Linked DNA regions of Homo sapiens: region 2 is linked to region 1. The links come from fine-mapping of genetic effects on gene expression. A gene starts in region 1. The other region holds a variant in brackets. All regions are shown on one strand. Distances are from middle to middle.

The links.
Region 2: its variant is fine-mapped to the expression of ADO in blood mononuclear cells (TOPMed, PIP 0.94).

Annotation. Positions count from the first base shown.
Region 1 is chr10:62,803,168-62,806,083 of GRCh38, forward strand. ADO (2-aminoethanethiol dioxygenase) reads left to right here and starts at 1,553. Exons shown (of 1, transcript NM_032804.6): 1 at 1,553-2,916. The coding sequence starts at 1,893. The coding sequence ends at 2,705. RefSeq lists enhancers at 1,308-1,567, 2,038-2,157 and a silencer at 1,608-1,857.
Region 2 is chr10:62,855,653-62,858,568 of GRCh38, forward strand. No RefSeq gene overlaps it. Among named protein-coding and RNA genes, the nearest start is that of EGR2, 41 kb to the left of the region's middle. The variant T/C (reference allele first, on the strand shown) is at 1,528.

The sequences.
Region 1 (2,916 bases):
CAAACAAAAAAAAACCACACACAAAAAAATAGGCTTCACTCCAGTTCTTCTGAATCAAAATCTCTGAGGTGTGACCCCAAGATCTTTATTTTTTAAGCTCTCCAGGGGGTTCTGATGAGTAGGGTTCAGAACTTTTGTTCCCTTAACACCGGCATTCTACAAATGAATAAATTGAGGCCCTAAAAGGGTAGGATTTGCCTAACGACACACAGCTTGTAAGTACACACAGTAGGCTGGAACAACAATATCCTGACTCTCGTTTGGTGCTTTTACACCAATTCAAGCTGCTGTTTTTGGTAAGACTGTACTTATTTCTGCTCTGCTGCTCATGCTTTGCTGGGTACTTAGTATTCACTATCCTACAACTTATTCCCTCATCTGCAATCTGGGAATAATAATAGTGCCTGCCTCTTAAGAGTTGCTGCAAGGATTAAATAGTATAACATTCATTATATAATGCACTTAACACAGTGCCTGGCATATTGTGAGTACTCATTAGCCAGGTTATGTAATCCACTTTAAAAAGTATGCCTATTTTAACTGGAGAGGATTCACTGAACCACTCCAATTACAAAATGTACAAGAAACCCATGTTCAGCTTTGGAATCCAAAAAGACTTTAAACTCAGGGTTAAGTTTAAAGTCATAGTATCTAATGTCTTGCTTTTCTAGTCATTTACTTATGCCAAAAGTTAGTTCACGCCAAGGAGAAGGATGCCTCTGTGTAGTGAAACAATTTCACAATTACTGACTGAACTGACTGTTGCACACCACTATTTCTCCTAGGATGCCTCAGAACCATCTAGTAACTCCATCTCTGGGTGACGACAGGGAATCTGCATTTATAAAAGCCCGCTCCCCCTTCTCAGGCAAACCAAGATTTGATAACCACTAGTATGTTCAGAATCCACGACCACTGTAAATGGCCTCTCAAGTCTCTCCAGCAAAAAGCTATACTGCTCTGTAACCAGAAGAGCAGCGTCATCAGGTCCTGATGCAAACAACAGCTGGGCCCAGCTGGGCCCAGCTGGGCCGAGTAACCTTGATGATCACAGAGGACGGCCTGGACCCCCTCCCCTCCTAGGAAACACAAAATTATAAAAGCGCCCTCCTGCAATTCCCGTGGGAGACAGTGCTGCCTAGGCCGCTACGAGGAGCTAAGGCTGACTCAACAGCCTCCTTCCCAGGGGCAAGGCCAAAGGAAGGCGACCCTGCATGGCTAACCAGGCCCCAGCGCGGCGCCAGAAGGTTAACGACCCTCCCTGCCCCTTTCCTTATGAAGGCCAAGAGCCTCCACTACTCCGGGGGCCAGCTGACGGAAGTGCGTCACTCCACCCTGCGGGGAGTGCCGGGAGTTGTAGTCAAGTGGCTACTAATCTTCCACCCCGATTCATCTTTTCTAAAACAAGAAAAACACCTCTGCATCCTGAAAAAGATCGCTTTATGCCCAACATGTGTAATAGTTCCTCTATTTTCCAATCAACAAACTGAACTATCTCAGAGCTCAAGCGGAAGGCCGGACTACAAGTCCCGGCATGCTCCGCAGGGTCCCCGGGCGCCCGGCCACCGTCGTAGGTGCGGGCCGCATGAATGGAGCGCCGGGCGTAAGGCAAAGCCTGGCACCGTCTGCGCGGCCGCTATCTGCTCCCGGAGCGTGAGTGCGGGGTGTGGGGCGTGCGCGTGCGCGCTCAGAGGGGGCTCAAGGCGAGCGCGCCGGGCAGTTGCGGGCGCGTGGCTGCTGAGGTTGGCGGCGGTGCCGCGCGCCCGACGGGCCGGTGGTTGCGGGGCCTCCCGCCTCGACCCGGGCTGGGGGCAGCCGTGGCGGCCGCCGGGGACCGCAAGGGGCGGAGGAAAGGAGGGGGCCGGTCCCGGCACGCAGAGGAGCAGCCGACCATGCCCCGAGACAACATGGCCTCCTTGATCCAACGGATCGCCCGCCAGGCTTGCCTCACCTTCCGGGGCAGCGGGGGCGGCCGCGGCGCTTCCGATCGCGACGCGGCTTCTGGCCCGGAGGCGCCGATGCAGCCGGGCTTCCCCGAGAACCTGAGCAAGCTGAAGAGCCTCCTGACCCAGCTCCGCGCCGAGGACTTGAACATCGCCCCGCGCAAGGCCACACTGCAGCCGCTGCCGCCCAACCTGCCGCCAGTCACCTACATGCACATCTACGAGACGGACGGCTTCAGCCTGGGCGTGTTCCTGCTCAAGAGCGGCACGTCCATCCCGCTGCACGACCACCCGGGCATGCACGGCATGCTCAAGGTGCTGTACGGCACCGTGCGCATCAGCTGCATGGACAAGCTAGACGCGGGCGGCGGGCAACGGCCGCGGGCCTTGCCGCCCGAGCAGCAGTTCGAGCCGCCGCTGCAGCCCCGGGAGCGAGAAGCCGTGCGGCCGGGCGTGCTGCGTTCGCGGGCCGAGTACACCGAGGCCAGCGGCCCCTGCATCCTCACACCGCACCGGGACAACCTGCACCAGATCGACGCCGTGGAAGGGCCTGCCGCCTTCCTGGACATCCTGGCCCCGCCCTACGACCCGGACGATGGCCGGGACTGCCACTATTACCGGGTGCTGGAGCCGGTCAGGCCCAAGGAGGCCTCCAGCTCGGCCTGTGACCTGCCTCGAGAGGTGTGGCTCCTGGAGACCCCACAGGCCGATGACTTCTGGTGCGAGGGAGAACCCTATCCAGGTCCCAAGGTCTTCCCTTGAAGCCACTGGCGCCCAGGAGCGGTGGGCCGAAGACGTGCCCTACCCTACCACAAGGGCTGTGTCTCTACCCCCTAGCCTGGGCGTTGGATCTACTGGAATGAGCAGCAGCCGCTTCCTCGGCAGCCTTGGGAAGCACGGGCGACTGGACAGCAGCCGCCGGGCACGGTTATGGGGGCGGGGTGGGCGGGGAGGCTAGATTGTTTCCTGGTAC
Region 2 (2,916 bases), 52 kb after region 1:
GGCACTTGGGGATGTGGGATGGGGGCAGGAAAGAAAGGGGCTAGACACATCTGAGTGAAGGAAAGACAGCGTTAAGATGTTGAGGAAGAAAGAGGAGCAGAAAGGGGTAAGCTGGGTTCTTCTGAGCATCAAGATGGATATTGGTCCAAGTGTTTAAGTCTGAAGCTAGGTGCATACTTCTAAGTGTGGAGTGATTTTCAGGCAAAGCTGATTCCTATGATATGCATTGATAATTATAGGGGCTATTTCTGCTCCTGCCAGTAGTTCAGAGATATTCAAAGGGTGCGTAAAATTATTTAAACTATTTTATTTTTGGGTCAAAATGATTGCAAAGCAGAGAAACGGTCGGGAAAAAATAAAACATTTACTGGGGTTTGCAAAAGGAATATTCACATAAATAAAGTGTCAATCCACATGTAGCACTTTGCTTCTTGTGTGGTAGGAAGTGAGAAAATGTCGAAGCCAAATCTGCTATCTTTTTGCGTTTTCAATGTAAGGAAACAGTCATTATCTGTCAGATCTGGATCTTCCATGATTCAATGATGAAATAGCCCATAAAAGGTGCTCAGAAAAGCAGTGGTAATTCCATATAACACCACAGAACACAATCATAACTTCATATCTTTAGACTACATCTCTGAGCAAGGTTCCACGGCATTTGAACTTACATTTTCATCAGCACAAACCACAGGTATAGTGTAAAAAAAAAAAAAACAAAAACAAATTTTAACTCACTCCGAGACCTCAAAAGATTTAACAAGAATTGGATAAAACCTTTGTGTCTCAGCACTATTACAGCTTCAGCTAACCACAAAAATAAAAAAGCTGTTCCTATATTAGTGAGTTATTTTAATGAGATTCCTGGAGATAATGTAAAAGTTCTTGAACTTGATGTCCTGCCAGGGGCAACAAGTGGCTATTTTACTTTCTCTACTCTGAGTGCAGCACCCTGGTTGATAAGATGATCAGCAGGTCAGCTGATAATATTAACTTCAGAGATGGAAAATCCTACCAGTTTAAAGACTTTTTTCAAGAAATTGATGACTAACTTCATCAAAACCTGATAAGAATTGATTCTAACAGTACACTCATATCAATGCTATAAATGAAACATCTGATGATTTTCCAGTTTTTGAGGAAAGTTGTTCCTGTAAAATATTTTTCTCTATATATGGTGTGAATAGGTCACTGCAATAATTTGGTGATTTGGTCAAAGGGCAATGCAAATAGCATTACCTTAAATTCAAGATATCTGAGACTGATGCCTCCTCTTGAAAGAAGACTAAACATGTTTCAAATAGTTTATTATTCTACAAACAGTTAAAACAAATTGATGGCCTCTTATCTAAATGAAGAAAAAGATAAAGATTTTAATTCAAGGCACTGGTTCTTGTTTTAAGCAAACTACTTCCACTATTTTACCTGATGCTCTTTCTAAAAGAAGGGGCAGAACATATCATCACTGAAGACCATGTGCTTTTCTAGCAGTATGCAAAAGTCATAAATAATTCTAAGTTTTCATTTTCA[T/C]TTCAAACTATGAGAATTGTGAAAGAACATCATTAACAGTGGTTTTCACTCTGGTTTAGATCTATATCTAAACAGATGAGTTATATATAAAATTGTCTAAATCATGAAACTTTGGGAGAATGAAGTGCAAATAAGGCCTATCATTTATACTGGCTTCACTTAGGGAGAAATTATAAATAAAATCATACAGAAAAGCCATTAATTCCTTTCAAAGTTTTGTCCCTTCTTTATCATGCAATGACATTTTTAATAAACACCATGTCCTTAAATTATAGTTTAATGAGAACTTACTAGCCTAATGGGCAAAGAGAAAGGATACAAATGAGAAACAACTGGATATGATGAAAGATTGTTTTCCTCCTGTGTATCTTAGTATTCCAGTCTTATTTTAAAAGTGCAAATTCATCCTCTGCTAGGTACACCATGAAGGAGAGACAAATTTCAGCAAAGAACAATTTTAGAGACTGTGAACCCTCTTCAGGTTCAGTGAGCACTGAAACTGTAGACTCTCTCTTAGTATTCAAATTAAGTACTTAGAGACTTGGTAAGAGATGTTTGAGAAAATTAGGCAAAAATCAACAGTTATTGATGGAAGCTGAGTTCTTCAAAAAAATGCAAGGAAAATAAGTTACTCTCAGCATCATTATTGGATAAATGATTAAACTGAAGAAGTGAATATTGCATTGAAGCATATATATGTCATTTTCCTGACAGACTATGATTCATTGGGAAAAGGTTTTCTGTGGTTTTTTAATACAGTCAAGTTCATTATTAAAATTTTTTAATTAATAGACTTTTTTTAGAACTAGGTTAATAGAAAATTGAACAGATGAAGAGTTCTTATAAACTCTACTTCCTTTTATTGCATCTTATATTAGGGTGGTATATTTGTTAACATTAATGAGCCATTATTAGTGCATTATTACTAACTAAAAATCTATACTTTAGGACTCACTCCTTGTGTTATTAAGTTCCATGTGTTTTATTATAGATATTTTTACCAAATTTTGTATTTCTCTTCATTTTGTTCTTTTACATAAAGAATAATGAGTCATAAACAATGTATAGTGACATATAATGTAATATCTATACTTGGAAGCACTTTTAATATAAATAAATTCTAGGAAATAAAAGCCCTCATTTCCTAATTCAGAATAGGAAGACACTAAAGATACTAGGCATAAGAAAGAACCTGAGTAGTTCTGGGAAAACAGACTCCAGAATGTTAAGGACAGAAATTACTTAGACCTCAGAATCTTGAACACCAAAGCATCAAGCAATGTTAAATCTTAGCAGGGAGGTGCTTGCCTGGCCCTTTAAATGTAGCTGACGTCAGAGGGCCTGGCCACCAGAACCTCTGGCTGCCTGGCCTCTCCTGCCCACAATCCT